2 separate regions of the Homo sapiens genome follow, and region 2 is linked to region 1. A link means that fine-mapping ties the variant in region 1 to the expression of a gene that starts in the linked region. Tissue or cell type: coronary artery. Region 1 holds a variant in brackets; the other region holds the start of a gene. All regions are shown on one strand. Distances are between the middles of the regions.

The links. PIP is the estimated chance that this variant, and not a neighbour inherited with it, causes the effect.
Region 2: DNAH10 starts here. The variant in region 1 is fine-mapped to the expression of DNAH10 in coronary artery (GTEx, PIP 0.97).

The regions. Positions count from the first base shown.
Region 1 is chr12:122,896,174-122,904,434 of GRCh38, reverse strand. No RefSeq gene overlaps it. Among named protein-coding and RNA genes, the nearest start is that of VPS37B, 4.2 kb to the right of the region's middle. RefSeq lists a silencer at 8,168-8,261. The variant C/T (reference allele first, on the strand shown) is at 3,764.
Region 2 is chr12:123,757,407-123,765,406 of GRCh38, reverse strand. It overlaps DNAH10 (dynein axonemal heavy chain 10), which reads right to left and starts at 3,106. Exons shown (of 79, transcript NM_001372106.1): 1 at 2,857-3,106. The coding sequence starts at 3,070. ATP6V0A2 (ATPase H+ transporting V0 subunit a2) reads right to left here. Exons shown (of 20, transcript NM_012463.4): 20 at 3,652-7,480. The coding sequence ends at 7,375. It overlaps LOC105370044 (a long non-coding RNA gene), which reads left to right. Exons shown (of 5, transcript XR_945481.4): 5 at 159-239. RefSeq lists a silencer at 3,106-3,525.

The DNA of each region.
Region 1 (8,261 bases):
CTCAGGAGGCTGAGGCAGGAGAATTGCTTGAACCCAAGAGGTGGAGGTTGCAGTGACCCAAGATCTGCCACTGCACTCCAGCCTGGGTGACAGACAAGACTCTGTCTCAAAAATAAATAAATAAATAATAACGGTTAGAATGATAAACTTTATGTATATTGTACCACAATAAGAAGTAATTTTTTAAAAGTGGTAGCTGAACTAGTTTTACGTGTATTAATAGAGATGGATTTCAAAACAGAGACAGAAGCATGTTGCAGAATAGGATGCCATATTTTTTAACAAAAATACTACCCAAAACAACACTAAATAAATCTGTTGTGCATTCATATGTATATATGTTAAAGAATAAAAATGGTCTGGAAAAATTCACACCAAGGAGTGTTAACAGTGGTCGCCCATGGGGAGAAAGGATGAACAGTTGGTGGCCAAGGAGAACTTAGTTTCTTTGTCCTAATTTATTTATTTGTAAAGGATGATGGCGTGGAAGACTAAATAATAATTCCCCAATTACACCCACATCCTCATGCCCTGCCAGCGTTGTTTTGTGTGGTACAAGGTCTTTGCAGGTCTGATTAAGCGAAGGGCCTTGCGGTGGGGAGTGGCGCCTGGGCTATCCAGGTGAGTCCAATGTCATCACAAAAGGCTTCCTAAGAGGGAGGCAGGAGCGTCAGGGTCAGAGGAGGCAATCTGAAAACAGGCAGAGATTGACCGAGGCCCCTAGAAGCTGGGAGAAAAGCAAGGGAGCTGATTCTCCCCTCTGAGTTTCCAGAAAGAACCAGGGCTGCCAACATCTTGACTTTAGGACTTCGTGATTTTGGACTTCTGACCTGCAGAACTGTAAGAGAAGAAATGAGTGTTGCTTAAGCCACTAAGTTAGTGGTTGTTTGTCACAGCATAGGAAATGAATACAGGATTCATAGCTTCCCTGTACAGTTAAACATTATGCAGTTATATAAATAGAAAGGCTTGGGAGGAGGGAGTAGATTTCGAGTGCATCAGATAAGGCACCCCCCTCTTGAAAGAAGAGCGTAAACTAGGTGGGTTTCTGTAGCACTGACGTTGAGGGCAACAGGTCCAGGAGGTGAAGAGGTGGGGGTGACTGAGGTGGGAGCTGACATAAGATCATTAGCATATGCAGAATCACCTCGAGAAGGACCGCAAGGTAAGAGCAGAATAAACTGGTATCTTCACACATTTTCTGCCTAAGACGAGACATGCAAAATTTCACAGTGATTAGAATGTTCCAGATTTAGTGCCTGGATTAACACCTTCTGCTGAGAAGAATCTTCACTTGAAAAAAAAAGAAGAAAACACCCTGCATGGAATTCAAAGGAAAAAAAAAAAAAAACACCAACGTTATTTTCAGCACTACTAGGGGAAAGGTAAATTCAGGCAACACCTGTTGAATAGGTTTCAAGAGTTTTTGGAACCAGCTATGGGTCAGCTAATGTCGCTAAGGAGTTATATTGATTTGTCCTTAGCTATATGATTGCAAAGTGACACGTTCCATATAAGTAGAGTGTGATCTCTCTTGCTTTAAAAAAAAAAAGTAAGTGGGTAGGAGGGTGGATATGAATATAGTTGCTTGAATAAGCACTGAAAAAACTTCTGGAAGGAAACACAAGTTGTTAATGGTTTTTGTTTGACCCCCTTATCTACTATTTGAATTTTATTTTATGCCATTTTATTATTATTTTTGAGACAGGGTCTCGCTCTGTCACCCAGGCTGGAGAGCAGTGGCACGATCATATCTCACTGCAGCCTCCAAATCCTGGGCTCAAGCAATCCTCCTGACTCAGCCTCCTAAGTAGCTGGGACTACAGGCATGTGCCACCATACCCAGGTAATTTTTTTTTTTTCGAGACAGGGTCTCCCTTTGTTGCCCAGGCTGGAGTACAGTGGCACGATCACTGCTCACTGCAGCCTCGACTTCCTGGGCTCAGGTGATCCTCCCATCTAGTCTCCCAAGTGCTGGAATTACAGGCATGCATCACCACGCCCGGCTAATTTTTGTATTTTTAGTAGAGACAGGATTTCACCATGTTAGCCAGGCTGTTCTCGATCTCCTGACCTCATGATCCACCCGCCTCGGCCTCCCAAAGTGCTGGGATTACAGGCGTGAGCCACCACGCCCAGCCCGTACATGTTTATCTTTTTAAAAATTCTAGAACCGAAACAAAACTGATCACTGTGGCTACCTCTGGGACATGGGTTCAATAGGGTTTGTTGTTAACTTTTCAGCTTACACACTTCTCACAGTTTAGACAGTTTTTACAGTAAACAAACGTTATTTTTAAGTATTTGGATGTTAATTTGTATATTTTATTATAAATAGTTCAAATTTATCAAAAGGAATAGATAATAATATAAGCCCATGACTCAGTTAAGAAATTCAAGGTGCAAATTACTTTTGTAACTAAAGAAGCAAGCAAACAAAAACCTATAAAGGTTTCCTAAAAAAAAACAAAACAAAACAAAACAAAAAACCACCTTGAGAGGGTTTCAGTTTCTAGTTTCTCTCTAGAGAATTTGCAAACCCAATGCCTGGAAATCCTGTCTTTGTACTTTTACCTATGTGTAAACCAACTCAAGTGTTATAACCACTTAGACGTAAGGTTTTTCAACATTGTCAGGGTTCGAGGTGAATGTTAGAGCTGAGTTAATTTCTTAGTGGATGAACCTAATCTTCTTGAAACTGTCAGGCTTATCGCAATGCATATAAGCAGAGAACAGGCTGTTGCCTCTGTGGTTTATCTGCGGTGTCAAGGCAAATCAGGCAAAAAATGCTGCAGGGCCACTTTCTGAAGGCTATTTTAATGAGGAAAGCAAGGTTCTGGGACTTGAAAACAGTTGGGGTCCTCTCTAGGGGTGACCAGAGAAATCATTCATAAGGGAAGCAAAAGCTAAGTGGTCTTGCCAGGCGCGGTGGCTCACGCCTGTAATCCCAGCACTTTGGGAGGCCGAGGCGGGCGGATCACGAGGTCAGGAGATCGAGACCATCCTGGCTAACACAGTGAAACCCCATCTCTACTTAAAATACAAAAAATTAGCCGAGCGAGGTGGCGGGCGCCTGTAGTCCCAGCTACTCGGGAGGCTGAGGCAGGAGAATGGTGTGAACCCCAGGGGGCGGAGCCTGCAGTGAGCCAAGATTGTGCCACTCACTCCAGCCTGGGCGACAGTGAGACTCCGTCTCAAAAAAAAAAAAAAAAGTTAAGTGGTCTTGCAGTTGTTCTCCCTGGCTGGGTTGATCAACACAAGAGGTAAAAATAGCTTTATCACCTCTTTTTAAATATGAAATAATGATGCAAAACAGAAGCATTTTTGTTGAGAGATAAAAAAAAAGAGCAAGATTAAGACCCCCATCTTCCTTTAAGTAAATAGTAAGAAAAGTGAATTTTCAGTAACACTCCAGCAGGGAGTTTAGTGAAAATCAGGCTGTGAAAATCTGCCCTGCTCTGTTTCATGGCATATCACCCAATACATTTTTATTTATTGTGGGTTGGTGCAGCACGTAAGTTTGGGTTTGCAGGATTTTATTATTTTTGTTGGTGACCATTTTGGTTTTGCCAGTGATATTTAATAAACTCTTTTTTGTTTTTCTTGAGGTTGTGAGCAGCTACATTTACATTAGTTATATTCGTTTTCTTCCTTTTAGTTAAAAAAAAAAATACAAAAATCCTTGGCCGGGTGTAGTGGCTCACTCCTGTAATCTCAGCACTTTGGGAGGCCAAGGTGGGTGGATCACCTGAGATCAGGAGTT[C/T]GAGACCAGCCTGGCCAACATGTTGAAACCCCGTCTCTACTAAAAATATAAAAACTAGCTGGGTGTGGTGGCATGTGCCTGTAATCCCAGCTACTCAGGAGGCTGAGGCATGAGAATCACTTGATCCTGGGAGGCGGAGGTTGCAGTGAGCTGAGATCATGCCACTGAACTCCAGCCTGGGCGGCAGAGCGAAACTCTGTCTCAAAAAAACAAAAACAAAACCAAAAAAAACTTCAATCCACAAGCATTGTTGTAACCTTAAAAAAAAAATCACTAACTTCTCCACTAACAACTTAAATACTTTGTTACCCTCGAGTCTTTGTCCTATAGAAATATAGCTTGTTCATTATAATCAGTCTGTATACACATTATACATGTGATATATATACACAGACACACACACATACAGAGAATGAGAGAGAGAGACAGAGAAAGAGACAGGGTCTTAATCTCTTGCCCAGGCTGGAGTGCAGTGGTGCGACCACAGCTCACTGCCGCCTCAACCTCCTGGGCCTCACCAATCCTCCCACCTCAGCCTCCCAAGTAGCTGGGACCACAGGCATGCGTCACCGTGCCGGGCTATTTTTTTTTAATTTTATATTTGTAGAGACAGAGTCTCCCTCTGATGCCCAGGATGGCCTTGAACTCCTGTACTCAAGGGATCCTCCCACCCCAGGCTTCCAAAGTGCTGGAATTACAGGTGTGAGCCACCATGCCCAGCCTACATTTATATTTTGCCTTTGTACCTTAACTCATGTTGCTTTTTCCACGTAGCTTCATAGTCTTTGCGTATCTTATTTTAATGGCTGAAAATATACCATTGATCAGATTTACTACAATTTACTTAACCATTCCCATAGTGTTGGACATTTAAGTTCTCATAATGTCATTTATTCACCCTCCCCTCCTATGACCATTCTATAGACCTCCGTCTTCCAGGCTGAAGTGACTCTCCTGCCTCAGCCTCCCAAGTAGCTGGGACTACAGGCATATGCCACCACACCTGGCTAATTCTTGTATTTTCGGTAGAGATGGGGTTTCATTACGTTGGCCAGGCTGGTCTCGAACTCCTGACCTCAAGCGATCCACCCGCCTTGGCCTACCAAAGTGCTGGGATTACAGGTGTGAGACACCAGGCCTGGCCCCCTACCTTTATAACACACCAAAATAACATCAACCCTAAATATAATTTTAAAAATACTATTCTATATTTGTATATCTTCTCTTGCTCTCCAAAGCAGAGACTGTATCTAAAACGATTTCTTTTTTCTGGATGACTAGTATGTAGGTCATTTTGGACATGTAGGTATTAGTACATGACAGTGACATGGTGGTGACATCAGGCTGTGAGTCCCCAGAGAAGCATGGCTGTTCCACCTGACACCTGGGGGAATAATTCCTCTAGTGCGCACACATAGTTTTGTAGCTATGTGTGCTATGCTATGGACACCTTCTTATTAATACATTTTTTCCCAGCGTCTCAAACTGGAAATTATTTCTGGATAAATCTACCAATGGGAGAGAAAGAATTCTAATCCCAAGGCTAGAAGATTTTTAGGTTCAACTATGCAAAGGTTGTGTGTGTGTGTGTGTGTGTGTGTGTGTGTGTGTGTGTGTGTGTTTTAAGTATGCTTGCCAAACAATTCCCAATATTGTGTAACAGGAGACTCATTGCTCAGACGGCAACAATGCTCCCATTGAGAGTGAAGCTCTGGCACATGCATACATTGCCCTTGATTCACCAGAGCAAACTCTTAGTTAACCCACAAGCATTACAAGCAGATGTAGGTGCATAAAGAAACCCAAATATCAGCCAACCGATAAAAGGAAAAAGACATGCAAATCCATCCATGCATTAAATTGACAGGTTTGACACTGATGCAAGGAAGCTTTGACATTTTCTTTTCTTCTCTCAATCCCCTTTAAGAATGACAAGAAGTTTTTAGAGCAGCAGAAAACAAGATGATTTTGTGGTTTGCTCTGTTTAACAAAGGAAGTGGTGTATGACTCCAATAGGTTGGTGGCAGATAGCAAGTATGAGAATAGTTATAAAAGGACTGGGCAAGGGTGGCAAGTGAGCCGTGTTTAAACTTAGTACGTTTAGAGGTCACTGTATATAGGTATGCCATTCTGAAGCCAGTTTTGTTCCTGGGGTATGTTCTTGGTTAAATCACATCATCCCTCTAGATTCTGGAGAGCTCTGACCCCTACCTTATTCTCACCTTCTGTGGGGACTATGAGAAATTCCTGGACATCTTAAGCCTCATAGAGAGGATTTCCTGGAAATAGAGCTACTATTCTCAATTTGACAGGTCTATTCTTCTCCTGGAGGGAGAAGGAAAAAAGAAACGCCAGCTTCCTACATCTCCTTCCCACTTGTGTCCTTTCCTCCTTAGAGCCATCTTTCTTCACCAAGTATAACAAGTTAGAAGGAAGAAAATTACCGAGTGTCCTTTTGAGCTCAATAAAACCTTTAGCTTGGCCGGGTACGGTGGCTCATGCCTGTAATCCCAGCACTTTGGGAGGCCAAGGTGGGCGGATCACGAGGTCAGAAGATCAAGACCATCCTGGCTAACACGGTGAAACCCCGTCACTACTAAAAATACAAAAAATTAGCTGGGTGGGGTGGCGAGTGCCTGTAGTCCCAGCTACTCGGGAGGCTGAGGCAGGAGAATAGCGTGAACCTGGGAGGCAGAGCTTGCAGTGAGCTGAGATTACACCACTGCACTCCAGCCTGGGCGACAGAGCAAGGTTCCGTCTCAAAAAAAAAAAAAAACAAAACAAAACAAACAAAAAAAAACCTTTAGCTTACGGATTATATGAAACATTTCTTTTGGCCGGGCGGGGTGGCTCAGGTCTGCAATCCCAGCACTTTGGGAGGCTGAGGTGGGCGGATCACTTGAGGTCAGGAGTTCGAGACCAACCTGGCCAACATGGTGAAACCCCATTTCGACTAAAAACACAAAAATTAGCTTGGCGTGATGGCGCATGCCTGTAGTCCCAGCTACTTGGAAGGCTGAGGCAGGAGAATCGCTTGAACCCAGGAGGCGGAGATTGAGGTGAGCTGAGATCGCACCACTGCACTCCAGCCTGGACGACAGAGCAAGACTCTGTCTCAAAAAATAAAAAAAGCAATAGTTCCTCTAACTTTCATCATTTTTCTGCAAACACGAGCCCTTAGTACAACGGGCTGGAAGGAGAGAAGAGGTTGGCAGAGCCCAGCCTAACGTATGGATGGAGAACACAGACCTTATGTTTTACCCATGGAGTTGCAGAAGAATCAGCTTTATACACAAAGCCCCTAAGTCTGCCGATAAGCATTTGCTGAATGCCTCGACTGTGTTCAGAGCTGAGTTATGAGACGAGGTCAGTGTGTTATGATGCCAGCGTGGTGGACGCCAGACTGGGAGCCAGGAGACCTGCCAATTACTTGATTTTCAGAAACAAAGCAAAAGCCCAAAAAATTTCCCCTTCTCAGGGCTTCAGTTCCCTTATGTGTAAAATTAGGGGGCTGTCATGGTTAACCTCAGCCTTAGGTTTCTTCTAACTAGAACTGTGACAGATTCCAAAGTAGGATAATGAGTTCCCAGGCTCCTGGATCTTAAGAGGCTTCCCGGTAGCTGAGAGACTGAGAGCGACTGCACCCTAAATCGTGTTGTTTCTGAAAGAGCACAGGTTGGCCCACCTGGATGTCTGGGCACCTTCCTCTGAGGTGATGCAAAGGGGCCACTCAATGGGTCCTTGCTCAAAATGCTCCAGCCTTACTGGCCTTCTTCCCATTCCTGAATGCACCAAGTTAGTCCTGTCCCAGGGCCTTTGCACGTGCTGGTTTTGCTGCCTTGAGCTTCCTACAGGAATGGTGGCTGGTTCCTCCCTTCTCATCCTTCACATTTCCTTAGACGCCACCTTCTCCGAAAGTGCCATCTCTTACTACCCTAAAGGTCTTTTTATTTTCTTATTTCAGTGTCCATTCCCTTATTTGTGATCGCCTAATTATTTTACTTATTTCTTGTTTTGTTTGCGTCCTCTTTCATTCTGTTAGCTCCATGTAAGCAGGGGTCCGTTTTGCTTTATTCAGAACTGTATACTCAATGCCCAGTACAGAGTAGGTCTCAAAACATATTTGTTAAATGAATGACGTGGCAGCTCCACAATTCCAAGTAACCAATGACACCTAAAGTTGTTTCCCCATGAAGTCTCTGTCTTTTGGGTTCCGTGCATCGGGCTGGGCTCACAGGCTGCGGGAACTTCCTTCCCACTGCCTGTTTTCCTTGGATCGCGGTATCTCTCTTCCTGGAGGAAAAAGGCTCTTATGACCTCATGGCGCGCTCTCCCGAGCCGCAGTGACGTCATTAATGCGCTCACGCGTCACAGCCCAATCATAGGGCCCTTCCCCTCCCTTTAGAAGTCCCGACTGTCCCTGACACATTCCACTCCAAGCGAGCCGCGACACTTACGTCACGTCCGCCCGCCCGCGCGGTGATGACGTCACGACCCA
Region 2 (8,000 bases), 860 kb before region 1:
AAGGGATGGAGAAGCGTTGCTTTTTCTTTTTATATGTAATTCTATGTTCTGTGAATTCATAAGAGAACATGTGTTATGGCAGTATTTGTGTAATTTCTTTAAATGTAAGGAAGTTACTAAATGATATGTACAGTACGATTCCGTTTTGTTTTTTCCAGAAGGAACACATGTACCTACTGCATCAGTATCTTGGGTATCTGCTGCCCGGAAGGACACCTCGCCTTTATTACCACCACCTGCCCCAGTATCTGCTTGTCTCCATTCCTATCATTTTTAACCAGGAGCAGAGAGAAATCTTGACCGGGGAAGGGGGGCAGAAAGAGGAAAAAAAAGGAAACAAAGGACACGCTGGGCTCTCTGCAGGTCCTCTGAACAGACCAGAACCACCTGTCCCCCAAAAATAATCTAGGGAAACTGTTCAAGGGTTATATGAGCCTGTAGGTTTAACAAGCAGAGAGTGAGTGACAACGTGTGGAGTTGGGGATGAGGTCTCTTCTCCCCACCTGGCCAGAACCCCCAACACCCGACGCCATCTGGCACCTCCAGAATCGGCAGCTTTGAGAGTTTCCAGAGACAGCATCTTCGGCGAGGAATCCATCAGCTTTTCACCATGAGGTGATAGTGGAGAAGGGACGGGAATGGAAGGGAAGACCAGGGACAGAGACAGCCCAGAAACGGGTCAGGGGGCGGGGTGGGGGAGTTCTGAGCTCCCTTTGGAGGGTCCAGGAATTAACCAGGGGGACCCTCTGAGGTGAGACTGAACTCTGCTTCCACACTGGATGACATTTGGGCTAAACACGTGCTAGTAAACACAGCAGACAACAGCCACCCCACCGTTAACAGAGGCCCTTGGAGGGCTTCTGCAAGAAATCCAAGTCACATCCATTGTTTTAGGGTCTTGTAATTTTTTTTTAATGTAAACGAAACCCGAGTTCCTGCAGTGGTGGTACATGTTAAACGGTCAATCCTGCGAGTGTGTTTTTGGTTTCCATAATTTCACTTGGTGCCAATGAAAGTGCCTACATCCGAGGTCCAGTTATAATCTAATGTTCAGGTCCAAAGGTCTGCCAGGGAGAAAAAAATAATAGGCTGGAAGGTTAAATTCCAAAACGTGATCACGTGGTCCTCTCTCCAGATGGCACTAGGGATTTGTTATTGTTGTTTATTTATGGTTTTGGATTTATGATGAAGGCGTTTTATTTTGTGCAAGCAAATAATGAATATTTAAAATAAATGAAGGTGGCCAAGCGCGATGGTTCACACCTGTAATCCCAGCACTTCGGGAGGCCGAGGTGGGCAGATCACTTTAGGTCAGGAGTTCAAGAGCAGCCCGGCCAACATGGTGAAACCCTGTCTCTACTAGAAATACAAAAATCAGCCAGGCATGGTGATGGGTGCCTGTAATCCCAGCTACTTGGGAGGCTGAGTCAGGAGAATTGCTTGAACCAGGGAGGTGGAGGTTGCAGTGAGCCGAGATTGCACCACTGCACTCCAGCCTTGGCGACAGAGCTAGACTCTGTCTCAAAAAAAAAAAAAAGAAGTGGCCAGGTGCCAGATGGCTAACACCTGGAATCCCAGCACTTTGGGAGGCCGAGGCGGGAGGATCACTTGACCTCAGTAGTTTGAGACCACCCTGGGCAACATGGTGAAACCTGTCTCTACCAAAAATATAAAAATTAGCCAGGCATGGTGACGCATACCTGTAGTCCCAGCTACTCAGGAAGCTGAGGTGGGAGAATCACTTGAGCCCTGGAGGCAGAGGTTGCAGTGAGTCAAGATCGCACCACTGCACTCCAGCCTGGGTGACAAAGTGAGACCCTATCTCAAAAAAAAAAAAAAAAAAGTTAAAAAATAGAATACAATAAATGAATCTGCCTGGTACCTTTAAAAAAAAAATCAAAGGTCTGCCGGCCCTGCCACCCGAACCCAGTGAGAGGCCCTGCAAGGGATCCCCAAGTCCTTAAGGGGCTGGAAAAGTAGCCCAGGAGACTGGACAGCCAGGCAGGAGGTCCCGGTAGCTGTGCTCCAGCTGGTGCTCCTGCGAGGAGGCGGCTTTCGAGGTCCCAGTCTCCTTCTAGCTGTTTCTGAAGCGAGTTGTCCTGCCTCCTCCTCTCACCTGTGCTGGCCCCTCCCTGCCCTCTCAGTGTCCCTGGCCTATCAGAGAGTAGGTGGGGCTGGGGATCCGCCTCCACAGAGGGTTCTGGGACCCTGGTCACTGTCTTTTTGTATTTGCGATGCTAATTTGTTCAACATAAACATTTAAAGTCTACTGTAGTTTTTAAACTTTGTCCTAGCCTTATTTTACTTTTTAGGATATAAGGAGCCTCCAGAAGTAGAAAGGGGTGCTCTTCGGACCCTCCGTGAGAGGCTGCGACCGTCAAGGAGAGTGACAGTGACCTGGGTCCCTGCCACACCTGGGCATGGCTCTACCCAGCCGTTCGGATTATTGCACAGTGGATCTTGACGCCCCGTGGGCCTTGGGCAGGTTACTTAACCCCCTCCGTGCCAGTTTGCTCATCTGTAAAATAGGGATGAGGATACACCCGCCTCGTAGGGTTAAGGAGTTGATACAAGCGTTGGAACCGCACCTGGCACGGGGTGCGGGCTAAGTCAGTGTTTGCTGTGATTTTTCAATCAAGGCCTGACTTTCAAGTGGGCTGTGGGCCCAGGAGGGCAGGGACGGCTGTGATTGCTGGGTTCGCCCGGGGCCTGCACGTGGCGGGCGGCAGCGTTTGTGGACAGCACCTGAGGCCGGGGCCGGACGATGGGCAGGCTCTAGCAGCCCCGGCGCCCGCCGGAGAGGCCGGGACGGGCAGGAGGGAAGCCCGGGGAAGGGAGCGGCGCGTCGAGGCTCACCAATCTCCACCTCCACCTCCTCCGGCACCATAGTGCGGTAGATGAAGAGCGCCGAGGGCCCCTCCTCCTCGCTCGCCTGGTTGAGGAAGTGCAAGATGAGGTCCTCGCCCTGGCCGTCGTCGCGGTTGAGCAGGTCCTCGAAAAGCTGGGGGTCGGTGATGCCGAAAGCCGCATACACGCGGTCGCGCATCCACAGCACCCGCAGGTCGTCCATGGCGCCGCGCAGTGCAGAGGGAGCCGGGCGCAGGGCGGGCGTCCGTGGCAACGGCGGCCCTAGCAATGGGCGCCCCGGAAACGGCCGCAGCTCGCCCCGCCGACGGCGCCGGCGCTGGGGGCTGCAAGCTCGGCAGTGCCCCGCGCCCGGCCCCTCGATCCCGAACCCGCGAGCCGCAGCCCACGCCCCGGCCCCGGGATCTCGGAGGCGCGCACCAGGCCCCCGGGCCGCCGAGGTAGGCTGGTTGCTCCCTGGCCCCGGCAGCGCGCACGCCCCTGGATGCGGAGCGGGACCCTCGCCGCCAGGAGCCGCCCTCGGGCCGCTGCAGCCGAGGGTGCGACCCCACCCCACGCCGACCGGTTTGCAAGCAGCCCGCCCACCTTGCAGATGAAGCTGGGGCTAGAGAGTTGGCGAGACGAAGGTCACAGCACCTCGGCGGTGGCAGAGGCGGGATTAGAGGCCAGACGAGGAGGAAATAAGCCGAGAAAGCACGAGTTCCTCATGGCCTACAAAATCAGGGAAGGAGCAGAGTTCTTTAGCTTTCTTGCCAAACTAGAGCATAATAAAGCAAAACACCCACGTTTAAAAATATAGATATATTTATTTGTCATTAGCAAAAGGAAGTTAAATACTGATAGAAGATGCAAATTTGTCCTTTCATGCATTTGTGGAGCAAAGTACTAACTTGTTCACTGTCATTTCCCCTCACAAGGAGTTGAGCCCCTAGATGACTCAGGCTAACCCTAAGAACCTACCTAGCCTTCTTAGATATTCCCATCAAAGAACAGGTGGAGTGTACTAAGTATTTCTGAAAATTCTAAACCAAATCAGCAAAAATGGCCTGACTGTGGGAAGACTGTTCGTTCAAACTGCCTTATTCCCATCATCTTGATTTGACAGCTTCATAATAACCTTCCTGGATATATTCCCTGTGGCACGCAAGCAAACCCGGCTTTACGTTTTTAATAGAGGAATTTATTGTTTTAAATGCGGACTGTAGAATAGGTGTAGAAGTTGTTTTTCTTTTCCAAAATGTATCAGGCTCTAAAACGTCTGAATATGTAATTCATGGACATCGTAAGGCTGACCTATGCTACAGGTATTCTGTGCCTTATTAAACAACTGCAGAGGGCCAGGCGCGGTGGCTCACGCCTGTAATCCCAGCACTTTGGGAGGCCAAGGTGGGTAGATCACCTGAGGTCAGGAGTTTGAGACCAGCCTGGCCAACATGGTGAAACCCTGTCTCTACTAAAAATACAAAAATTAGCCGGGCACTGTGGCAGGCGCCTGTAATCCCAGCTACTCGGGAGGCTAGGGCAGGAGAATTGCTTAAACCCAGGAGGCAGAGGTTGCAGTGAGCCGAGACTGCACCACTGCACTTCAGCCTAGGTGACAGAGTGAGACACTGTCTCAAAAAAAATAAAAAAATTTTTAAATAAACAACTGCTGAGGGGATGCTGACACCAGAATGTTGTTATAAAATATCCATTCCAGAAACAGAGCAGCATTCAGCGAAAGAGGAGTTCCAAGTCCTTTCGCTGCTGGAAAGTCCGCAGGGCTCACCCAGATCCTATCAGACAGAACACCCTTTGCACTCCTTAACTGACCACGGCAATTACAGTCTCCAGCCCAGCAGGTTGAATCAAAGTCTAGTTTACTGAAGAAATCCCTTGGGTTTTAAGATTCTGTTAACACATGGTAATAAACATCTAAATAAAAACTGAGAAATGTCGTGTCGTGACATTTATCTTTAGGAAAATAAACATATTCAGTATCATCCACACAACTTGCCATCTGTGCTCTGGATCTCTGCTATCAAGGGAATGAAGTATGTTTTAAAAACTGGATACATAATAGGTTCTAGCAAAAGCCTTAACAAACAAAACTGAGCGATAACTCTGGTAACATGACACTGGAGCCCATCGCTTTATAGAGAAACAAATTCCCGTGGCCCCTATAAGACACTATTATCAAACTACATTTCCAGAGAGCGCTTTCCCAGAGTTAGGATTCTGAATTCGCTTTTCATATAATGACATTCTACATAAATACTACATAGATTTCAACAGAGAAATGACTGCATCCTCTGCTCTATGCTGAGAAGAGGTGTTAATTAGAAAGAGTTAAAAAAGTGGCCCCATGAGAATTACTAGTGGGGAGCAGTAAACAATTCCCGTGAATATCGTGTCCCTTATTTACCAATCAGCTAACAGTGCCCTGAAGTCTTGGGCTTCCTAGGGATGAAGTAGTTACCATTGTTTTTATGACAGACCCCTGGAGCAAAGTAACACAAATGTCCCCTTGTGGAAGCATCAGCTCTAGGTGAAAGCAACTCTGAGACCTGACCAGCACTGCTGGGATGTCATAGTCACCCAACACAAGTGCCCGACATGACACCTTTCTAGGGAAGCATAACTTTGAGAGCAGAATCATTTTCAAGCATTTCATCGGCATCATTTGATAATTTAATATGAGGGACAAAAAGCAGTAAGTCCAAACTGGCCTTGGGTAACATCTCATCAAGTAGCACACAGAATCTGTACTGTAATTGAAAGGGTTTAATTGTAAGTCACGGCTGTGTCAACGCTGTTCAGCTCATGCCTTGAAATCAGCTGCACAGCCACGTTAAACTCAGCACCTCCAGACTCTCAGCTTGTAACAGAAGTGCCAAGCTCTCTACCTCGAAACAGGATAGAGGAGGATGCGGGCAAATAGCCTTTTAACGTGTATCACTCACAATGTCAAGAAGGTGAAAAAAAGTCAGGTTTCTTTTTGAAAATAATTGTCTAAAATCAAACTAAAATATGAAAAATTAACATAATTTGCAAGAATATAGGTCAAAATGTTCAATAGGACTGACTCAAGTTCACAAAAAACCAAATGTCAAACAGATGAATTTAAACTAAAGATTATAAAACAATGGCTATTAAGAATTAGTTTTCAACTGATCTAAACAGTGTTTGAAAGTTTAAATTAACTCAATACTTTTATCAGAACTTTAGCTAGAAACAGTCTGAAAGTAAAAAAAGTATCATTAGACTGTTCTCAAGGATAAGTGCAATCTCTTCATGGTAAAATATCTTCATTTATATTTAGACTGTTCTCAAGGATAAGTGCAATCTCTTCATGGTAAAATATCTTCATTTATATTTTGTTACAAAAATATACAAAATACTACTTTTTACCTTTCCTTCACTCAGTATAAACCCTTCTGGTTCAGTGACATCAGCCAAGCTGTCACTAAATTCAAATCATGTCCGCATTATATCTTCTACAGTCACACTGGGTTTTAAGGCTCAGCATACAATTTATCTTCCAAACATACAATTATCATAACTGGTTTTATGTAAGGGTAACAGGATAAGAGTCTTTAAAAAAATATACAAGTGGGATAACCATTTGTTGTATGTCATTTTATCCCATTGTCCCCAATTACTAAAACAAGACAAAATTGTAAAAACAATCCTCTACTTGTAATTCTAGGTAGCACAGGATAAAAAATATTTGCATATTTTGGCCAGGCATGGTGGCTCACGCCTGTAATCCCAGCACTTAGGGAGGCCGAGGCAGGTGGATCACTTGAGGTCAGAAGTTCGAGACCAGCCTGGCCAACATGGTGAAACCCCATCTCTACAAAAATACAAAAAAATTAGCTGGTCACGGTGGCGCATGCCTGTAATCCCAGTTACTCGGGAGGCTGAGACAGGAGAATCACCTGAATCCAGGAGGCGGAAGTTGCAATGAGACACGATCGTGCCATTGCACTCCAGCCTACGTGACACAGCAAGACTTCATCTCAAAAAAAAAAAAAAAGTACATATTTTTAAATCCAGCAGAATAAATGTGAATGTTTTGATTACCCATCATTAAATTTTTTAAAAAACTATCCCTACTTCAGCTGTTGGAAAATATTATCTGGCAACTTCAGGTGACAGATTAACTCTGTTGTTTGTTTTAAATAAAGTTTAAAGGAAATAAGTATCTAATACCATTTTCAACTAGCCATGCAAAATTGGCTTCTCTCCCCAAATCCTGTATTTGAAAAAATAACTTTAACATAACGTTTGGCATTAACTTATATTTGCTCATCATAAAAAACCAAAAGAAATTTTTATATCTCAAATTGGTAAACTTTACAAAATATTTAACATATGAGGAAGAGGTATATCTTACAGAATTATTTGGCTATGTCATAAGGCAGTAATGAAGATGGAATTTTTCCTATCATAAATCTGACATAAGTGAAAGTCTATAACATGGTCATTCTCCATAAATCTGAAAGCTTGTTGGTTACAGCAATATGATCATGCCACACTGTCGTCGTTATTGAACTTTGATGAAAGTAGACTGAATGAGAAAGGAACAAATTTGGTGCCTGCACCAACGTAGAATTTGTTCTGAAATTCTACCCTAAAAAAAAAAAAAGCCATGTATTAATGGAAGATTATGAAATCACATTCCTTAAAACAACATTTATAAGTTAAAAAAAAAAATTCCTGTGCTGAAATTGCTTCATTCCAAAATATGTTCTTGGCACATATATTTTTACTTAGCTAAACACTGCCCCGCACCCCCAACCCCGTGCTGGCTTTCCCAGTGTGAACAGAAACTCTGACACATCCGCTGTCTCTCACTGCCCAACACACAAAAGCACGTGCACAAGTAACGAGACCCTCTCCTGCCACTTGAGTCACTGGAGGCACAGAGCAGTAATCTGACCTACACCATAAAACATTAAGAAATACATAAGAAGGATTTATCTTGCAATAAGACAGAGCAACCTGTCAGACCCAAAGTGAATTAGGAGTATGAAACATACGTTAGTATTCTGCAAACTTAAACTTACTTTTACTTGTCAGTGATAATAGTTCAGAATCAAAATACATTTTTTTTTTTTGACACAGAGTTTCGCTCGTCCCCCAGGCTGGAG